Regions from separate parts of the Homo sapiens genome. Here region 1 is reported to be linked to region 2. Evidence: microRNA targets listed by miRTarBase, many of them from high-throughput screens and not tested one by one. Region 2 holds a microRNA gene; the other region holds the end of a gene's coding sequence.

Region 1 (5,057 bases), not on the chromosome of region 2:
GGATGTGGGCCCACTTCCCACCTCTAAAGATGAGGCCACATAAGAGGTAAGGGCCTGCTTTGAGGACAGCCCAGCTCAAAAAAGGATGAGAGACTCCAGGTGCCTCAAAAGACAAGATTGTCTTGGTCACCCACAGAGGTCATCTTGGGGACTCATCCATGGGCCTCTCAGATGATCCCCACCCAAAAATGTGTTCTAGGGAAGGTGGGAAAGGTTAAAGTTAGAGAGCTCTGAGAATTGCGGTACACAATTTTGTTGTAGACTCTGGGCTTAAGAGGACAGGAGAGAATAGGAGGCAGGCAGAGTGCACACTGTCCTTGAAAGGCTTTGAGCCTCCTTCAACTCCTCCTCTCAGGGGTTTCCAAGGTACTGCCCCAGGGGCTTCATCAGGTGAATGGCTAGTTTGCAGAGGCCAGAAAAGGGGAAGGCAGGCAGTACCCGGGGCAGCTGTGTCCGTGGGGCTTTGTGGTCTCAGATGCTGTGATTGGGGGTAAGTTTGGTGTATGTTTTTTGGGGAAGGGCGAGAATGGAAGGAGCACCCTCAGCAGTTCAGGGCTCTGCATCGCCCACGGCCATCTGTTTGTCTAAGACGAGGGAAGCTCTGGTTTCCAGGCTGATCTGGAGAGTGGAGCAAGAGGCTCCTAACACTGTGCACCTTGGCCTAGAGGGCAGACACCACTGTGTGCTCATGTGCTGACCTCCTGGCTTGGCAGACGGCTAGGTGGGTGTTGCCATCCCCCTGGGCTGTTGCTGGCCAGCAACTGGTAACAAGCACTGGGCTACAGGGGAGTCTGTGTGCAACCCATGGGTAGGAGTAAGCAGGCAGGAGGTCAAGACTGGGGAGAAATGGCTTTCTAAGTTCCGGGGACTGCCCAGGAAAAACCAACCATATTCTCCTTCCATGGCCAGTAATTTCCCATAGGGAAACGGACATGAAATCAGTAGTTGGCTGTTTTTCTTAGCACAATGTTATACCTAATACAGAAACAGCCTCCCACAGACCACTCCTTTATTGCACTGGCACTGAGATGAAGGCTCCAGTGCCAGGCTGCCAGCTGGGAGCACTGATTACGGGTGATGGAAGAGAAAGGATGCTTCTGTCCCTGGCACAAATGATGGGAGCCCCAAAGAATGGATGTTTATGCATAAAATAACCCCCTTGTTTTTGCCTAAATGCTTCCCTCTCTCATTTTGCCCCTACAATCATTTTAGATAGTGTGGAGACTAAGAATGTGCTCATTTACATGGGAATAAAGAGGGTGCAGAGATTCAGAATCGGCTCATCACAGGAAGTTATCTGTATCACTAGAGCTCTTTTCCCAAGAGCAAACTGTAGATTTGCTTGAAATTAATAATGGTTCATCAGCCATTCATTACACATGTAATTAGCCTGGGTAAAAACAGATGCCATTTCAATGTCCTTGACATCAATTTTCTCCACTCCTAGTTATCGGCCCAACCACTCCTCTCTGCTTTCCCTTCTCAAGTCTGATAAACCCCAAGTTCCGGAGTAGGAACAGTGGTTGGATTTTTTGGTGGGTTTGATTACATATATTGAACAGGCAATACTAGAATGTTCCCATCCAAACAGGCAAAGGATAATTTTTAAACTACAACTTTGGAAAGTGGTTGTACTCTGATCCTATATTCCAAACCCCATTCTTGCATAATGACAAAGGAAAAAAGTCATGAGCCTCCAAGTGGGAAGCAGGCAGAACTGCAGGCGAGTTTCAAGTGATTGCTAATGGGAATCCCTCCTGAGCTGTCTTCCAAACTCTGCCAAGGAGGGGCTAGTTGTCTACAGTATGAGGATGACAACACAGAACTTCCATGGTGCTCTTAAGAACCAGCTACTCAGGAGGCTGAGGCAGGAAAATCACTTGAACCTGGGAGGCGGAGGTTGCAGTAAGCCGAGAACGCGCCATTGCACTCCAGCCTGGGGAACAAGAACACAACTCCATCTCAAAACAGGCAAACAAAAACTGAACTCTTATTTGAACCATGAAAGCGGAACCTTAGAGTAGCAGGCACAGGCTGGGCACGGTGGTTCACACCTGTAATCCCAGCACTTTGGGAGACCGAGGCGGGCGGATCACGAGGTCAGGAGATCGAGACCATCCTGGCTAACACGGTGAAACCCTGTCTCTACTAAAAAATACAAAAAATTAGCCGGGCATGGTGGCAGGCGCCTGTAGTCCCAGCTACTCGGGAGGCTGAGGCAGGAGAATGGCGTGAACCCAGGAGGCAGAGCTTGCAGTGAGCCAAGATCGCGCTACTGCACTCCAGCCTGGGCAACAGTGAGACTCCGTCTAAAAAAAAAAAAAAAAAAAGAGTAGCAGGCACAAAAAGCAAAAATGTCTTTGGTCGTCCAGATCCTGCCCACATCTAAACAGAAGCCCTGGGGAAGAAGTGAAACTCCTCCAAAGGCGGCTCAGGTTCGTCAAACCTAAGGGATCACGGGCATCTATGGCTCACTCCAGCCAACAAGTGCTCTGGGGAGCTCAGATGGACAAGGGGGAAAATGACTGCCACCAACCTGTTAGTACCTGCCTAGCAAGTCGGGAAAGGGCTCTTAAGATCCAGTGGTGAAGCCCAATAATCCCAACCAGCAACTAGGCTGCTTGGACCACTGGGGCAGACAGCAATCTCTTAAGGTAAGACCCTGAGGTCCACAAAAGTAGAAATCTCATTTTCCACTTTATCTCCCGTGTCTAGCATCACAACTAGCACATAGCAGGTGCTCAATAAATACTTGTCAAATAAAATGAACAAACACTACAAGCGTGGCTAATGGTATTGAAGGAAGAAGAGCTCAGGGAAGAGCTCTCTCACAGTAGGTAGGAGGACCCATCCTTCAGAAGATTCTTTTATTAAAACTGGGTAACATCAATAAGGGGACAGTACAAAAAAAAGTTTGGTCCATGAAAAAAACAATTCAGTTAATAAAAACAGTTATCAACAGGGACACTGTGGGAAGTACTGAGCTTCCTTCTCATGGTTCCAGCCAGGAGGCGGCCAGGGCTCAGCTGCCCCAAGGTTGTCCAGTGTCAACCTTTCAAGGGAGGGAAAATGGCAGGAAGGGGAAGACGGGGAGAAAATTCTGCTGTCCCCAGTGTAGAACAGGGAGGGATTTGGGGGTGGGGGTGTGCTCGCAGGAGCCTGAGGAGGGGGTGGGGAAGCAGGGGCTTTGTCAGTTCTGTGGGTTTAGAGCCCATGCTGAACGGAATTCCCCCTTTGTGCCCAGCTGTCTCCCACCCTTGCTGTGTTGAGTCTGCGAGCCTGGGATATGCTAACTCGGGGGTGATACAACCTGGAAGAAGAATGTGAGGCTCTCCTGGAAAGATGCAAAAACCATCTCAGATCCAAGGGGCCAAGATCACAAGGTCCTGCTGCTACCTGAGGGGTCTGAAGCTTTGAGGGCAGGGGCTGGGGAGTCACAATCCTGTGAGGCAGGGAGAGGGAAGAGTCACAAACCCAACTCAGCGCTATTCTCCAGCCCTAGGCGCTTTCACTCCTCAGTGCCCTAGAAGTCACCAGTAGGTGTCAACTGGGCAGACAAGGGACAGGAAGACAGGGATGGCCCAGGGCTTTTTACCCGTTTGGTTTTAGGCCCGTTTCTCCATTAAGGGATGCAGAGGCAGGGTGGAGTGAGTGAATGAATGAGTCACATCTCCAAACAGCAGGAAGGAACAGCCTCTGCTGGCAATGACAGTTCCCCAGATGAGATCCCTGGGGCTCTGAAAGGGAAAGGCAAGATTCCCCCACCCAAATGCCCGGGATTAGGGCAGATCTGAGGGAATCACAAAGGGCAGCCACAGGGAGTGTCTGGGAGGGAGCAATAAAGAACAAAACTCCAATACTGATGTGGACCCCAACTAAGGAGTGAGAGAAGCACTGACAGCAGGCCAACCCAGAGGGCTGGGGACTGACCTGGGGCTCAGTGGAGCCCAAGAACCAGGGTTTCTGTAGTGCTACAGGGCAACAAGTGAAGGGAGAGTTTGTTCCAAACCTGTGGAGGGAAGGAAGGAAATTGGATTCTGTTATCAGGAGAGCCAAGATCAACTAGCTTATAGAGTGCCCACAGGCCTGAGTCTTGGAGAAGGAGCGAAAGCTCCCAACTCCTGGGTCTCTGAAGGGCAGGATCAGTTAGCTGGTCCCCTTGAAGACCACCTGGCCTGAGGCCCAATCCATTCCAAGCACTCATTACCACTACATGTTCTCTCTCTAACACTATCTAGAGGTCCTATGTAGACCAGGGGAGGGTACAGGCACATGGGAACTTTGTGGGGCAAAGGGAAGCTGGGGGTGGGAAGAGATAGGGTGAAAGAAGAGGATAACAGGTGTCTTGTGAGACCCTCTTCATTCTGGTGTTGTCCTTGAACCAACAGCATCCCCTGGAACGCCCCAAGCAAGACCAAGGCAGATACTATGAGGCAGGCAGCACAGGGCCCAAATCAAGAATTGGTGCAGTCGAATCAGGGCTGTGGGAGAGGCCCTATGTATTCCGGATTCCCAGGGCTTGCTCTAATTCTTGTCGTCTCTGCTGCACCTAAGGAGAAAATAGTGAAGGGAGTGGAAGATGAGACAAACCAGAAGTTGGTATCTAACACCACTGACCCCCATCAGGGGTGAAAACCCCGTGCCTTTTGTCAATTTCCCCCGTGCACCCCATGTACTTACCTTGGAGTAGAAGTATCGGCACACAGCCTCCTGAGCCCAGGGCTGGAAGTAGAACTCAGCTCGGCGCTCCTCCTCTGGGTTACCCACCACATCAGTCATTGTCTGAGGGAAATGGAGATGCAGGGTGGAGGAAGAGAGAGGAGAAAAGGCTTGTTTCCTTCCTTCACACCCATTATTGGGTAAATTGTATCCTTCCCCAAAATGTTGAAGTCTAACCAACCCCTAGTACCTGTGAATGTGACCTTATTTGGAAATAGGGTCTCTACAGATGCTCAAGTTAAGATGAGGTCATTAGAGTACCCCCTAATATGACCGGTAGGTTCCCTTATAAAGAGGGGAAATTTAGACATGGAGACAGACACATACAGAAGGAAGAC
Region 2 (5,071 bases):
TGGGCAGACCACTTACAGATGACTTAAACCCTAAAATCACCCAAAGCAAGTTTACTAGGCCTCCTGGGGTTCAAAGTGACCTGACCGGGCTACTCTAGCCACACTGCCTCTGGGGTAGTCCTGCTCCTCAAGGAGCAGTTAAAAAAAAAAAAAAGTGACCTGACCAAGGGACTGGACTGCAGCAGGGTGAAGGGGTGTCCAGGCAGGAACCACAGCACCCAGCACTGACAGCTCCTCAGGCACGTTGCCAGGAGCACTAAGCATCTGACTTAATCTAAGCTTCGTTCCATCTCCACAAGTCCAGGACTTCAGGACCACGCACCTTATCTACAAATGACACCAAGGCTCCAAGATGCTAAATACCATTTCCACGGTCTCCTGGTAGCGCGTGGTAGAGCCTTAAGTCCAGATAGGCTGGACTCCAAGACTTGTGCACTGGCAGAATGCAGAGAGCTCTGGTAACTGCAGTCTCATTCCACAAATAATTTCTGAAAGTGCTAATTAAGATGCATCTTAATTTTTGCTATTTTTCTTGCTGTTAATCCAAAAGTATAAATCCTCCCTCCCTAAACTGTAAAATTAAGCTTGTTGAATGGAGGGTGCAACTACTGTCACTAACTGTAAGCCACCTAAAACTCAACAAATTTAACAGAAATAGAATCTTCATATACCAGTGATTATCCAACAGTATTTTATTCTACTGAAAAAAAATCTCTTGGGCCTTTCTAAAAGAGTTTCACATTGGCCGGACTTGGTGGCTCAGGCCTGCAATCCCAGCACTTTGGGAGGCCAAGGCGGGTGGACCACGAGGTCAGGAGATCGAGACCATCCTGGCTAACATGGTGAAACCCCGTCTCTACTAAAAATACAAAAAATTAGCCAGGCACGGTGGCGGGTGCCTGTAGTCCCAGCTACTCGGGAGGCTGAGGTAGGAGAATGGCGTTGAACCCGGGAGGCGGAGCTTGCAGTGGGCGGAGATTGCGCCTCTGCCCTCTAGCCTGGGCGACAGAGCGAAACTCTGTCTCAAAAAAAAAAAAAGAGTTTCACACATACAGACTTACTTTCTCAAGTAGCACAGAAAACCACCAACAGCAATCCCAATGCTCTTTACATAGACATTTAAAAAGCTGTTTTATACACACGAAAAACAGGTCCAAACTGCTTGAAGAAATGCTTTTTTTTTTTTAAACCAAGGAAGGTCTTGCTTCTGGTTTTCTTTAGAAATCTGAGGTTTCACAAAACAGGTTTCTATGACTTTAACTACACATAAAAATAAATGTGTTAGTTTGGTCTCCAAAGCTCTTGAATCCATTAGAATAAACTATTCCCCCACCATGATGGTCCTCACCGTGGATTTCATCCCTTTTTTATCCTCAACTGTACTCACAAATACAATGTTAACTTTGCCTGCTGCATCCTGCCTTTGCCCTTCATCTCTTTGTGCTGCTGGAGCTGTCCATAGTGATTAGGGGCAGAAAGAGTATGAAACAGATCCAGCTTTCTTGAAAATAGACTCCCTTACCTGTCTTTATGCTAGCTTACCAAAAAGAACGGAGGCTTCCCTTTCCCACCCTGGCAGACCCGTCTGCACAAAGCTCTGGGAGGCAGCAGAATATCTCTAAGCCCCAGCCTCAAGATACATCATCTTACAATTTGTGCTACTCCTTTAAAGCTCCATTCAGAGCAGGACACTGTTTTCACAGGAGAGGAAGTCATTTTATGCAAGTTTTCTGGAAGAAAAGACACTACAATTAATGTTTGGTGAGAAGATGTGTTGAAGAGGACACAGGAACTTTCAAAAATGTCCAGTCATATCTTGAGCATCTCTGCAAAGCTTGAAAACATCATACAGGTCCTGGAGCCAAATTGAAAAATCTCCAAAAGCAAAAGAAAAAAAGTGTCACGAAAAAAAACATATATGTATTCCATTTTCACAGAATGTTCTGCCAAACCCCATGCCCCAGGACCACACACATTCAAGACAACACCCCATACCTCATACCGTGTGTGCAAGCAGGACTTCCCCAGGCCTGAAGCAAGGGCTGGGAAACGGCAGCTACGAGCCCAGCTACAAAGCCGGTGGGGCCACAGTGGCCACACAGCTGGCAGCCGCCTCCAGTGAGCTCTCTACAGGAAGCGAGTCTCTGTACCTAGGGTGCCATTCTTCCAGCCCTCATCTCCTCTCCAAGTACTTAACTACCAAGTCTATTTTAGCATTGTTTACTACTGATGTTACCACGCCATTTAGGATTACTCAATTTTAGGTATCCTGTCCTACGAAATACTTTTACACAAGCTATCAGGAGATAATGTGGTCCTTACCAGTTTCCTGCTTATCAGTCTTCCCTCTCTGCTAACAGAATGTATTCTCTTCCATTTTCCTGTTCTAAAAAAACCTCCCACCACGAATTCCAAAAAAAAAAAAAAAAAGAAAAAAAAAAGCCTCCATAAGAATTTATTTCAAGCTCCTGGTTTTCATGCCCCCAACGCCATGGCCCAAGGGTGCATAGCCCCACCGCAGTCCTCAACCCTTTCTCAATGTGATGGCACCACCATTCTTCAGTTATCACAGTACTGTACCTTTCAGATATACAGCATCGGTACCATGATAACCGAAAAAGGACAGTTCAGTCTCATATCTACCTGAATATTCCCTGCCACCCAGCTCACCAACCTCAGATGGGCCATATGATGATCTCCAAGTATGCAAGCACGTGAAAACACACACACACAATGTCAGTACTCAAATAGGCTGTTTTCCGCAACCTCATTTACTATCAATAGGAAATGCTTCTTTCACAGTGTCATTTATAATTCAAGTCTTCTGACACTGTTCTTTTTGAAGAGTGCTTGCTTTTACACCACAGCAGTCAACTTCTGCTAACATTCAACAATCCAAACTCACTTCTACAATTCCCTACTAGTCCAGTAGCATTAATACAAACTCTGTCTTTTGTCATCTTTCCCAGTGAGCTCATATCCTATCATCTTAGACAAAAAGCCTGTTTTCCCACAGCAAGTTAGACAGCTAAGGAAAAGAATGATTAAAAAAAAACTAGTAATAAAATCCAAGCTACACCAAACCAGGAGTTTACCTCTAACCTGGAAACAAAATCTAAAGCACGAACAAAATAACTGCCCAATAGAGATCATGCAATTTCAGTTACCTGGGATTAAGGAAGGAAAGAAATGCAAAAATCCTTGTATGTAAAAATAAACACCAGGTTAAGAGTGACAACTGCTGGCTGATTTGAGGATAAACACAAGCAGGTGTTCATAGTGCAGGCTCTGTGCAGCACAACACCCTTTGTCATTTTGGGCAATGAGAAAATTACACTGGACAGAATAACGAGGTTGAAAAAGAATAACTTACGTGTAGGGAGAGAGAGGGCCTAGCAGGACTTTGGAAACATCCTGCTGTCCAAGGGTCATGAGTAGTAGCGCCAGGCTTTGGTTGGTCGAGTCTACGCATCCACCCTGTAAACACAAATTAATAATTGTACAAACCAGAAAATGGAAAGCCAACAAAAGAGAGGAGGAAAAAAAAAACCAGAAACATACACTCATAATATCAAAATCCAAAGTTCAAGCAACAATAAAACAGAATACAGGTCTTATAAGAGTAATCATTGTATCAACTAACTGTAGAGGGTTAAACTAACAGTTAATTAGAGCAACTGTAATAGTTGAGACTATCAGAATGAGACTATCAGATTCAAATCTTCTTAAGTGAATCTAGTAAAAAAAAAAAAAAATGAAACTTTCCCTTTATCATTAAAGCAGCAGCAGGAGGACATCATCTTTATTGAGTATATGCAAAAAAAAAAAAATCTTAATCAGTTCTAGAAGATGTAGAGTTAATTCCAAGGGTTAAGTGGATGACGCTCATATTTATTGAATCTGTCACAGAACAACACAGTCTATCTGACATGAAACGGCCTTTTCATGGCCTTACTTTTACACTTATTCAAATACATTCAGGAAACTGCTTGCCATACTCTATTAACTTCTCTCCTTTATCTCTTCCTGAGTTCCTTAAAACTGAAGACTTGTTAAGGTTAGATCCCTTTATTCTTACTACTTATGTATAAAATTATGCCTTCCACCCCCTTTTCCTTCCCTTTCTTCCAAATTAACAAGCAGAACAGACTTCTCTTCAAACACTTTCTCCTGAGGTACAACTGCTTAGGTTGCCTTTCTTCTTTTGTTTTTCATTTTCTCAGCCATTTTAACTGTTTTGCCTCCACTAGACGCATACATAAGCATACAAACACGCTTTCTGATCATTCTTTCTGGAATAACTTTAAAACATATTGTACATAGTCAAAGAAGGATGACCTTGAATTTCTACATATTTTGCACAGGTCAAAATTAGAAATCCAGTCTGACCAAGGCACGTTACTATCCAAGGCTAGACTGAACAGGATAGGTGGCCAGCAGTGTGGTTCATATGGCTACAACTGCCCCTGCCTCCTTTTTAAGGCATGTAGGGTAGGAAATAAATCCATTTTCAGATACAGACACTCTGAAATTCTCTGGCTGTCAGATATCATTTAGTAGCCCTAATAATGGTGAAGGAAATAAGGATTGATCTTACTGCTAGCCTTTATGAAAATCTATTGCACGTCCCTAAACTACCTTAGTTAATAAAGGACAGAAAACAACATTTAGATCACATAGCAAATTCTAGGACAAGGAGAGTTCCTTTTCCTTTTCTACCCAAAAAGAAAAACCTGACCCATGGAAAATATGACGACCAACAAAACTGTTTTATAGATCTTGCTCCCTTTCATAAGACAGCCTAAAATTAAAGTGTTCTCTTCAGTCTCTGCTTCCTATCACTGTTGTTATTTCACCATTCACTGGACCAGTATTTTAATGTAATAGATAGCTAAGGTCCCTGTACAGGACATCATGGAGGAAGTGGTAGGGGCTATCACCCTACCTATGCTGGGGGGAGGTGTCACCTGCCAGATACCTGAGGAGGGCTTTAGGACTCAGGACTACTTGAGCCAGCCCTTGAGAGATGAGCAGGGTTTGGGGAGGAAGGAAGAACAGAATGATGGGGAAA

The links. Region 2 holds the annotated microRNA hsa-miR-101-3p (UACAGUACUGUGAUAACUGAA, at 2,559-2,579, opposite strand). A microRNA usually pairs through its seed, bases 2 to 8, with sites in the 3' UTR of a target mRNA and lowers its output. Matches are read on the target gene's strand: a 7mer-m8 pairs with bases 2 to 8, a 7mer-A1 pairs with bases 2 to 7 and ends in A, and an 8mer does both.
Region 1: miRTarBase lists SMARCD1 as a target of hsa-miR-101-3p. Seed matches in the 3' UTR shown: 7mer-m8 at 2,898-2,904.

Annotation. Positions count from the first base shown.
Region 1 is chr12:50,098,439-50,103,495 of GRCh38, reverse strand. It overlaps SMARCD1 (SWI/SNF related BAF chromatin remodeling complex subunit D1), which reads right to left. Exons shown (of 13, transcript NM_003076.5): 12 at 4,681-4,782; 13 at 2,789-4,549. The coding sequence ends at 4,496. Among named protein-coding and RNA genes, the nearest start is that of GPD1, 3.0 kb to the left of the region's middle. RefSeq lists an enhancer at 429-478.
Region 2 is chr9:4,847,853-4,852,923 of GRCh38, reverse strand. It overlaps MIR101-2 (microRNA 101-2), which reads right to left and starts at 2,627; the gene lies at 2,549-2,627. RCL1 (RNA terminal phosphate cyclase like 1) reads right to left here. Exons shown (of 9, transcript NM_005772.5): 8 at 3,374-3,477. It overlaps LOC124902113 (a long non-coding RNA gene), which reads right to left and starts at 2,557. Exons shown (of 2, transcript XR_007061402.1): 1 at 1-2,557.